Linked DNA regions of Homo sapiens: region 2 is linked to region 1. The links come from fine-mapping of genetic effects on gene expression. A gene starts in region 1. The other region holds a variant in brackets. All regions are shown on one strand. Distances are between the middles of the regions.

Region 1 (5,370 bases):
GAAGACACAATGGGCTCCTACTGTCTGGATCACGGTTTTACCTGGCGCTGTGCAGCAGAACTTTCAGCTGTGATGGGAACACTCCATATCTGCGCCACCCAATACGGCAGCCGCTAGCCCCATGTGGCTACTGAGCACCTGAAACATGGTGATGCTACTGAGGAACAGAATTTCCACTTTTATTTCATTTTAATTCATTAGATGTAAGCAGCCGCCTGTGGGCAGAGGGTCCTACGCTGGAGAGCACAGTCCTAACCCGCCATCTAAGCTAGAATGTCGCAAGCACAAAAAGAATCCGAGCAAGCAGCACGGGGTTGTGGGAAAAAATACCGGACAGGAAGCGAAGGCAGGATCTAATTATCATTGCCTTAGCCACCAGAAAGCCCCCACCACCCCTTTGAACCCCAGTTTCTCCATCAGCAGAGGGTGGGAAGGGGCTGACAAGGGACCAGGCCCTTCCGGCTCTGACCACCTGCAAGTTCATTAGGATCTCCTACACCTGGGCACTGGAAATCCAAGGAGGCCCGTGGGTTCCCTGCCATGGCAGGTGAATGGGGCACCTGTTAGTCCTGGCTACTTGCCCCAACCCCAGCACCAACCATGTCTCCCCCATCAGACTGAGAGCTCACTAAGGACAGGCACCAGATGGGGCCCTCTCGGCTTCCCCAGCCCCTAGCAAAGCATCTGGGCACAACAGGTGTTCAGGGCTTAAAAGTCAGCATTAACCACGAGCCTTTCCAGCGTGTGTCTGGACGTGGGCTAAGCGTTCTCACCCGCCATTTTGCTCATCCTCACAGCCACACATCAGCGGGCCGAGGTGGTCTCTTCTCCCTCCGCAGAGACCACAGCTCAATGGGATTCTATGATCTGCCCAGGGTCACTCTGCTGGTAAGCCGCAAAACTGCATTCAAACCCAGGACTTCCAACTCCGAAGCCAGGTTCTTAATGTGTAAGCACTGATGCCTGCTACAAATCCATCCCCAGTAGCAGATGGAAGGAAAGGAAAAGAAAATATGAACTGGGCTACCAGAAGTCCACTTGGAGGGGCCTCAGAGAAGTGACACAAACCTCAAAATCCCTAAGTGGCTGAGACTTCCAGCATTTTAAAGCCTCCAAGAAAGAAGGCTAGGTCCCCCTCCTTCTTGGGCCCTCACGGTTTTCCAAGGGCAACGGAGCACCCATAAGGCAGGGGAGAGGCTGGCCGTGGACCGGGAGACCTAGCTAGACCTGACCTCTGTCCCTCAGCAACTGTGTGACTCCGAACAATTTGTGCCTTCTCTGAGCCTCTGAAAAAAAGGTGTAAGAGTCCCTCACAGATTAACAGCGATAGAGCACTTGGCCCGCAGGACTTAATGAGTGGCCACAGAAGCCAACGACACGCTTAGCCATTCCTAAAGCATTTTAGGTCCCACCCCATGCGGCGACTGGCATGTGCTCAAGATAGCAGCCCATCGAACGCTCTGTTCTCCAACCAACACCCTCCACTGAGAGTCCCTACTCCAATCTTCCTCAGAAGAATGTCAGAGACCTGCCCTCAGGTGTCTGGAACTCCATACAGCTACAACAGCCAAGCCTACAGCTTTTCCTGAAACTGCCCGACTGCTGGTCCGGCGTGACCTTAGAGCCAGACACCTTCTAAACCACGCTGTGATTGCCTCAAATACAGTGGCAACAAGGAAATCCCAGGGCATGTTTACAGAACAGGAAAGCTGCTACCTCCTTTCCCTAAAAACCTCAGATGGGGTACTATACAATCTCCTACCTCAGGTCTGGAAACAGACCAGCCTAGCTTTAATTCCCAGGTCAGCCACTCACCAGCTGAGTGACCTTGGACCAGCCTCTTCCCCTCTCTGAGCCTCTGTGCCTAGACTGTAAAGTGGGAATGACCACCACTAGCTCACACAGCTGTTATTGTGAAAGTGACGTCAGCTAATGCTGGGAAATGTGAATGCCCCAGGTCCTGCCTCGGTGATGGAGGCAGCCCTGAAACAAGAGAATGTACAAGCAAGGCACTCCAGGCGGGGACTGGTCCCATCCCCCACCCGGAGCCCAGGCTGGAAAGGAGGGACGTTACGTTTCCACGCTGAAAGCCCTGACGCCCATGTTATCTCCCTTCCCAGGTGAACACCAGGACTTTGCACTCATCAAAGGTTGGGCAGGATTCAGGAACAGAGAGGTTGAGTGACCTGTCCAAGGTCACACAGCCAGCCAGGTAAAGGGAGAAGCAGGGATGGGTGGCGGCCCTGGGCCCATCCTCCTGCAGCGCCGGCCAAATAGGCTCCATCTCCACGGAAGGGGCCGCTCCCGAAGGTCTCTGACCTTGGTTTCCCCAGATGAGAACCAAGCCCCTTCCCACCCCCACCCCACCCCACCCCGCCCCGCAGGGATCCGAGCATCGGGAGAGCGGTGGGCACGGCAGGGGCGGAGGCCAAGGGCGACCACCCGGCCCAGCAGAAGCCCCGGGCGCGGGCGCGGCGTCTACGCGGCCGCGCTGCAGGGCTGGGGCATGGCGTGGCGGGCGCGGTCGGCGCGGGGCTCACCGGACTTGGGGTAGGTGACGATCCACACGTCGCTGGGCCGCACCGGGAAGTTGGCGATCTCCTCCATCTTCCCGCGGCAGAAGGGCGGCAGCCGCACGCCATGGAACTCGAAGTACTTGCTCTCGAACTCCCCCGGGGTGCTGGGGGTCTCGGCCTCGCTCTCCGCCATGCCGCCGCCGTCGCCGTCGCCGCCGCCGCCTCCCGGCTCGCAGCCCGCACGCGCCCGCGCCCGCGCCCGCGCCCGCGCCCCGCACACGCTCGCGCCCCACCGGCGCGCGGCGGCAGCTCCGCAGGCGTGACGTCATGGCGCCGCCGACGCGCGGCGGAGGCTCCGCGGGTATGACGTCATGGCGCCGCCCGGCACGCGGCCGCGGCGCTGCACGGGCGTGACGTCATGGCGCCGCGGAGCCGCGTCCTCCCCGCCCCGCCCCCGGCCGGGGTCACCCACCCGCTGCCGGGGCTGACAGAGACCCTGGCCCGCGGTCTGCAGCCTCCTCAGTCGTGCGTGCGTTCATTCCGCTCATAGCTTCTGTCACTCAGCAAGCGCTCAACACAGACGCATGAGATACCCTGGCTGGAAGGCCCTGAAAGGTAGTCGTCCATTCAACACGTGCTTAGCGCGCTGCTGATCTGTGCCAGGCACTGGGCCAGGGCCCCGACACGCGTCAGGGTAGAAGCAAGCAGAAGCCTGGCCCTGTTGGAGCTTACATTGGTAAATAACCAAGATAATTTCAGGTAAATATTAGGTCCTATTAAAAATATGCGTCTTCGCCAGGCGCGGTGGATCACGCCTGTAATCTCAGCACTTTGAGAGGTCGAGCACGGGCGGATCTCCTGAGGTCAAGAGTTCGAGACCAACCTGGGTAAATGGTGAAACCGCATCTCTACAAACATACAAAAAAAAAAATTAGCAGTGAGCTGTGAGCTTGCACCACTGCACTCCAGTCTGGGCAACAGGACGAGATCTTCTAACAACAACAAAAAAAAAGTATGGGCCACCTAGTCCAGCCAAAAAAACAAAGTGCTTTTTTTTTGCTTTTTTTTTTTTTTTTTTTTTTTTGAGATGGAGTCTCGCTGTGTCGCCCAGGCTGGAGTGCAGGGGCGCGATCTCAGCTCACTGCAAGCTCCACCTCCCGGGTTTACGCCATTCTCCTGGCTCAGCCTCCCGAGTAGCTGGGACTACAGGCACATGCCACCATGCCTGGCTAATTTTTTGTATTTTTTGTTTGTTTGTTTTAGTAGAGACGGGGTTTCATCGTGTTAGCCAGGATGGTCTCAATCTCCTGACCTCGTGATCTGCCCACCTTGGCCTCCCAAAGTGCTGGGATTACAGGTGTGAACCACCTCGCCCAGCCAAAAAGTGCTTCTTAATATCCCATGAGTAGGGGAGGGGAGTGTTGGATTGCAAATTCCAGGACCCCAGATCTATGGAGAAAAATTACAAAAATATACATTTAGTAAGGCACTTCTTGTGCAAACTATAATTTGAGAGCAACCGAGTTCTAGAGATCTCAGTGCAACCCCTTGCCAGTCATGCACTCAACAGACATATATGAAGCACCTACTAACATGCCTGGGGAAGCACAAAGATGAAAACAACACAGCCTGCTCTCATTCTCTGCAGCCGAGCATCATCAGCTGTGTAAAGGAAAAGAATGATTCCTACCTCTAAGTAGTGTAGCCAGGAAGATGGAAGGAGTTTACACCAACAAGAATCTGGAGCAGAGTGGCTGGACGGGACCTATTCCTACTCTCTCCTTCTTACTGTAGAGTGAGACACGTGCATTCTGACACCAAAGACATACACATGGGCTGAGAAGCGCAGGCCATGTGTACATAGCAGACAGAGAGAGGAAACAGCAATTAATCCTGACTTGGGAAGCTTGTAGATGTCTTTCCAAAAAAGAAAGAGGACATTCCGAGCACCCAGCCTTTATTCAGAATAATTAGGCCAATGGCAAAAGGGCATCTAGCCAAAAGCTAGAGGGATTGAGTGAATGAATGAATATCCTGATGTTTCAGGTGAGGGTTCTCACTGTGGGAGAAGGAAAATGTAAGTGGGGAATGCGAGAAGGCAGGGAAGAACTCTATGGTATTGGATTGGAATTGGAGGTATTGACATGAGTTTATGATATTTTAAAATTCCTATTTCTTATATTTGCTGGAAAAGCCTTTAGGCAGTGATATCTCAATAATACTAGGCATACCCACTGCCCAGATCTTTGCTAAATACTTCCCTCACCAAATGAACCTGGGGTTTCTTGGAGAAAAAGCCAACTCCAGGGCAAGGAAAGTACAAGATGAGCCTAAAATGTCTTGTTGAGTCTTGAACTCCTGCAAGTTCAAAAATGTTGGGAATAGGTCAGAAGGACACAGGGTATAACATGAAAGTATTATCATAGGTCAAATCGGAAACAATTTGAGCATGTTAGACAAAAATGGGAAAAAACCCACGTACCCAACAGTAGAATAGATAAATTGCGATATATTCATACAATGGAATACAGTAATTTTTTTAAAAAAGGAATGTAACTGAGAAGAATGTCACAGTCAAAATGATGAACAAACTAAGTCAAGCACAAAAAATGGTATGTCATATGATTCTATTTATATACAGTCAAAACCAAGCAAAACTGATCTATAGTGATAGAGGTGAGAATAGTCTTAACCTGGGGCATTGGAAAGAGGGTTGACTGGGAGCAGACTCAAGGTTACCTACCCTCCATAGTGTTGGAAACATCATAGCTTGCTCTTAGTGGCGGTTACATGAAGATATAGACATAGATAAAAGTACAGACATGGACATAGATGCAGGCCTTGCTTCACGGAT
Region 2 (5,370 bases), 40 kb after region 1:
GGCCTCCCAAAGTGCTGGGATTACAGGCATGAGCCACTGCGCCCAGTGGAGGTGAAGTAACTTTCTAATCATTAGCTGATTACCTCATGACAACTCAGGAGGTGAGGTGCTTGGATTATCTGCATTTCGCACTGAGGCCCAGGGAGATGAAGCAACTTGCCCAGGTTAACCCAGCTGGGAACTGGCAGGCAGAGTGGCTCCAGTCTGTGCCCCAGGCTGCCACCTGTCTTTTCAGGAGGCCCTGTTGTGCCAGAAAGCATTGCACAAGGGCTCTGGGTGGGCTGTCTCCTTCCCCTGGCCCCGGAAGCCCTCTCCTTGCCTGTCTTGGGTGGCTGTGTTGCCAGGCAGTCAGCATGGGCTTTGCAAACTGACAGACGTGTTTCTAATCTCAGCTCTGCCACTGACCAGGTCAGAGACCTTGAACAAGTCACTTGACCCTGCTGTGCCTGTGCCTACTGTATCCCCTCCAAAGCTCAGGTTGAAATTTAATTGCCATTGTGACAGTATTAAGACATGGGACCTTTAAGAGGTAATCAGGGCCGGGTGTGGTGGCTCACACCTGTAATCCTAGCACTTTGGGAGGCCAAGCTGGGTGAATCGCCTGAGGTCAGGAGTCTGAGGCCAGTCTGGCTGACATGGCAAAACCCCATCCCTACTAAAAATACAACAGAATTAGCTGCGCGTGGCAGCAGGTGCCTGTAATCCCAGCTGCTTAGGAGGCTGAGGCAGGAGAATTGCTTGAACCTGGAAGGTGGAGGTTGCAGTGAGCTGAGATCACGCCATTGCACTCCAGCCATTATCCTGTGGGTCCGGCCTGTCTTGCTCTCCCTTCCTCTCCCTGTGCCATGTTATGATGCAGCCAGACATCCCTCACTTGATGTGGCTCCTCAGTCTTGAACTTCCCAGCCTCCAGAACCGTGAGCTAAATAAGTCCCTTTTCTTTATAAATGATTCAGTCTCAGGTTTTCTGTGATAGCAGCAGAAGACCGACTAAGACAGCACTTCAGTCTTCCCATCTGTGAAATGGAGGTGTTCAGGGCCACCTCTCCCTGAGCAATTGTGAGGATGAGATGAGGGATGTGCCAAAGGTGCTGGGCACAGCAGTGGCCGTCACGTCCCAGGACATGGGGATGGTGACTGTCTCCCACAGCAGGTTGCTCTACCTCCAGCTGCCAATCATGACAATAACCAAGCCACCAGCTCCTGGTGCCTTCTGAGGACTCAGCTCCAGAGAGCACTTAACCCTCGACACCCCTGCTGAGTGGCAGGCATATCACCCCCGCTTAACAGGGAGCTGAGACTCAGAAAATTTGCGTAAATAACCCAGGGCCCAGCAGCCAGGAAATGTCAGTGCCAGGATCAGAACGGGGGGGTCAGAAACCCTCCAGTCACACTTGCCCTGTGGTTCCAGAATCGTGCTTTCCTTTCTGTGCGCACCCCACACTCCCCTGCACAGGGAACTGGAAGCCACTAGGCCCCTCACAGAACCTGAGCTCAGATAGGAGCACCCCATGAAGCCTGGGCTCCATCCTCCTGGAGGGGGAAAATAAAGCTTCCTGGCTTGGAAGACAAGGAGGAGGGGATGGGGACTGAGCCCCCAGCAGAGCCCTCTCAGGGCCGAGAGCCAGCCAGCAACACAGTCAGGGAGAAAGTTGCCCAGGAGCTTTGTCTCCAGCACTCTCTGGGTACCCATCATGGGTAGGGGTGGGCCTGGGGGGCTCCAGGTAACCAGCCAAGGGCTGTATGGACAGACCACCCCTGGAACCCGGGCTGCCAAGAGACACGGCACCCAGTGGGGGAGGTGCCAAGCCTGGCATTGGCCAGGGTGCTGGACAAGCCATAGCGTGGCTTGGTGGCCCAGTGAGCAGGCAGAGGAGGCCACAGGAGAGACAAAGGCAGCTAAGGAGTGGGAGCAGGAACCAGGGCCTTGTCACCCTGCCATCACCTTGTCACCAAACCCACGAGTACCTGTCACCCTGCCAGGGCAGACACCTGAGAGGGGCTTTTTTTTTTTTTTTTTTTTTTTTTTTTGAGACAGAGTCTTGCTCTGTTGCCCAGGCTGGAGTGCAGTAGCACGGTTTCAGCTCGTTGCAAACTCCACCTCCCAGGGTCAAGTGATTCTCCTGCCTCAGCCTTCCAAGTAGCAGTGATTACAGACACCTGCCACCATGCCTGGCTGATTTTTGTATTTTTGGTACAGATGGGATTTCACCATGTT[T/G]GCCAGGCTGGTCTCGACCTCCTGATCTCCTGTGATCCGCCTGCCTCAGCCTCCCAAAGTGCTGAGATTACAGGTGTGAGCCACTGCGCCTGGCTGAGAGAGGCTCTTGATGCCTTCTCACTCACCCTTGGCTGGTGGCCACCTCCCGCCAATGCTCCTTCCTCAATCCTGACCCGGTCTTTGCTCCATGGTCCAGCCACCCTCCCTCTCAACATGAGTGCCTGCTGGTGCTGTAGCCTTCCAACTGGACCACCCTCTCTCTCCCCCATTTCCCCACTGGATTATTTGTGGACCAGCCCACCAAGGACAGCCTTCAGCTTCTGTGTTCTTCCAAGTGCTTGGCAGAGGTTGGAGCCCCTTTGTGTTTCCTGCAACCCCGGTTCTCACTTGTGCTCTTAAGAAAAAACTCATCTGAGAGTATCCACTTGTTCTCACACAAGGACCACTGCGCTCAGGTCACACAAATGCAGCGTGGATCCCAGCCTGGCTTCTGATTCCCCATGACCTTCAGGAGCCGACCCTTGCTCCCTGGTCCTGGGCATCTGTGGAGCCCCAGCTCCGAGCCAAGCCACCGGGGTCTCTTGCCCCACTTTCCTCTCTGGGTGACAGGCACCCTACCCCACCTCAGGACTATTTCTAGAGGCTAGAAATTCCCCTAGCAGGCTCAAGTTCCTGCTGCTCTTTATTTGGGAGCAGCTGCTTGTTTCTTGCTCTGTGGGATAACCTGAAATCTGACATCTGCCCCTGCCCATTGGCTCAGCCTAAATGCTCATTTCCGGGTGCTGCCTTTTCTGCCAGAAAGAGGGCCAGCCATTTCCACTCTGCCTGCGCCTCAGAAAGCCTGGGCAGCAGTCCAGGGCTCCCCAGTGGATTGCACCCAGCTTGCTGCCGGTGCGGCAGGGGTCCTGGTCTCAAGGGGAAGATGCATCCTTAAGGCTGGTCTGGTCTCTAGCTGCCCTGTGTCCCTCTTCATGGTTTCTCTAAGAGGCATCTGTTTTGCTCATCACAAATGACTCCAGGTCACTTTAAATGCATGTGAGGCTTTTCAGGCTGAGCCCAGTGGCTCATGCCTATGATCCCAGCACTTTGGGATGCTGTGGCAGGAGAATCTCTTGAGGCCAAAAGTTTGAGGTTAAATAAGTAAATAAATGTAAGACTTTTATAAAAAGATTACTTATGTGTTTCTACATACTGATCCACATTTTGAAAACAAATTCCAGTCGTTTTGGTATGCCTAAAATTGTTCCAATTTTGTTTTGTTTTGTTTTGTTTTGTTTTTGAGACAGGGTCTGGCTCTGTTGCCCAGGCTGGAGCGCAGTGGTGTGGTTATGGCTCACTGCAGCCTCGACCTTGTGGGTTCAAGTGATCCTCCCACTTCAGCCTCCCGAATAGCTGGGACTACAGGTGCGCATCACCACACCCAGATCGTTTTTTAAATTTTTTTGTGGAGAAAAGGGTCTCCCTATTTTGTCCAGGCTGGCCTCAAACCCCTAGGCTCAAGCAGTCCTGCCACCTCAGCCTCCCAAATGCTGGGATTACAGGCATGACAGCCACTGTGCCCGGCCTAAAATTGTTCCAGTTATAAAGATTGGATTTCAAGGGGGTGGGGTTGCATTAGAATCACCTTCCCCAAACCACGTGTTCCCTATGCTGCCCCCGACCCAACACACACAGATTCTCAAATACCTCCTCCTCCCCACAGCCGTGGCCCAGTCGCCTGTCAGAGCTGACGATCCTTACTGAGGACTGCGGTTGCAGCCCCCGGGGGCCAGCCTGCCCTGCAGACACACCGGGGTGGAAGAGGGTTGAGAGCAGGCCCTGAAGCAGCTTTTTTTTTTTTTTTGAGACGGAATCTTGCTCTGTCACCCAGACTGGAGTGCAGGGGTGTGGTCTCGGCTCACTGCCAGCTCCGCCTCCTGGGTTCACACCATTCTCCTGCCTCATCCTCCTGAGTAGCACCCAGCTAATTTTTGGTATTTTTAGTAGAAATGGGGTTTCACCATGTTAGCCAGGATGGTCTCAATCTCCTGACCTCGAATGATCCACACACCTCGCCTCCCAAAGTGCTGGGACGCCTGGCCCTGAAGCAGCTTTTATGGAGAGGCACAGTGAAAGGAAAGATTGGCTGAGAGATCATGGTGGCCAGCCGGGGGCAGAGGCAGTGGGGAGAGACAGGGCTGATTTGCGAGGGACGTGGTGGGGACTGGAAGGGCTGGGGTGGGAGCTGGGTGTGGATACCAGGTCAGGAGGAGTTGTTTTCGCAGGCCGGACTCCTTCTGTTCATTAAAAGTATTTCTAGGCCAGACACAGTGGCTCATGTCTCTAATCTCAGCACTTTGGGAAGCCAAGGCAGGCCGATCACCTGAGGCCAGCAGTTTGAGACCAGCCTGGTCAACATGGTGAAAACCCGTCTCTACTAAAAATACAAAAAATTAGCCGAGTGTGGTGGTGCACCCCTGTAATCCCAGCTACTGGAGAGGCTGAAGCAGGGGAATTGCTTGAACCCAGGAGACAGAGGCTGTAGTGTGTAGGGACCAGCCCCACAGGGTCGGTGGGTCTCTCCCTGTGTGCGGTGACGAGAGAGTGTAGAAATAAAGACAAGACAAAAAGATAAGAGAAAAGACAGCTGGGCCAGGGGTACCACTACCACCAATGCGTGGAGACCGGTAGTGGCCCCGAATGTCGGGCTGCGCTGTTATTTATTGGATACAAGGCAGAAGGGGCAGGGTAAAGAATGTGAGTCACCTCCAATGATAGGTAAGGTCACGTGGGTCACGTGTCGACTGGACAGGAGTCCCTTCCCTGCCTGGCAGCCGAGGCAGAGAAGGAGAGGAGACAGAGAGAAAGACAGCTTACACCATTATTTCTGCATACCAGGGACTATTAGTATTTTCACTAATTTACTACTGCTATCTAGAAGGCAGAGCCAGGTGTACGGGATGGAACATGAAGGCAGACTAGGAGCGTGACCACTGAAGCACAGCATCACAGGGAGACGGTTAGGCCTCTGGATAACTGCAGGCGAGCCTGACTAATGCCAGGCCCTCCACAAGAGGTGGAGGAGCAGAGTCTTCTCTAAACTCCCCCGGGTAAAGGGAGACCCGCTTTCCCGGTCTGCTAAGTAGCGGGTGTTGTTCCTTGACACCTTTTGC

Alleles and levels. Positions count from the first base shown, and alleles are read on the strand shown. Sizes are in standard deviations (SD) of each study's normalised expression.
As copies of T replace G in region 2, the expression in fibroblasts of the gene that starts at base 2,840 in region 1 goes down (small effect, 0.30 SD a copy in GTEx).

The links. PIP is the estimated chance that this variant, and not a neighbour inherited with it, causes the effect.
Region 2: its variant is the best candidate, but not a certain one, in a credible set for the expression of SULT4A1 in fibroblasts (GTEx, PIP 0.51).

What each region holds. Positions count from the first base shown.
Region 1 is chr22:43,859,674-43,865,043 of GRCh38, forward strand. It overlaps SULT4A1 (sulfotransferase family 4A member 1), which reads right to left and starts at 2,840. Exons shown (of 7, transcript NM_014351.4): 1 at 2,541-2,840. The coding sequence starts at 2,709. RefSeq lists an enhancer at 656-1,155.
Region 2 is chr22:43,899,179-43,904,548 of GRCh38, forward strand. No RefSeq gene overlaps it. Among named protein-coding and RNA genes, the nearest start is that of PNPLA5, 9.9 kb to the left of the region's middle. The variant T/G (reference allele first, on the strand shown) is at 2,219.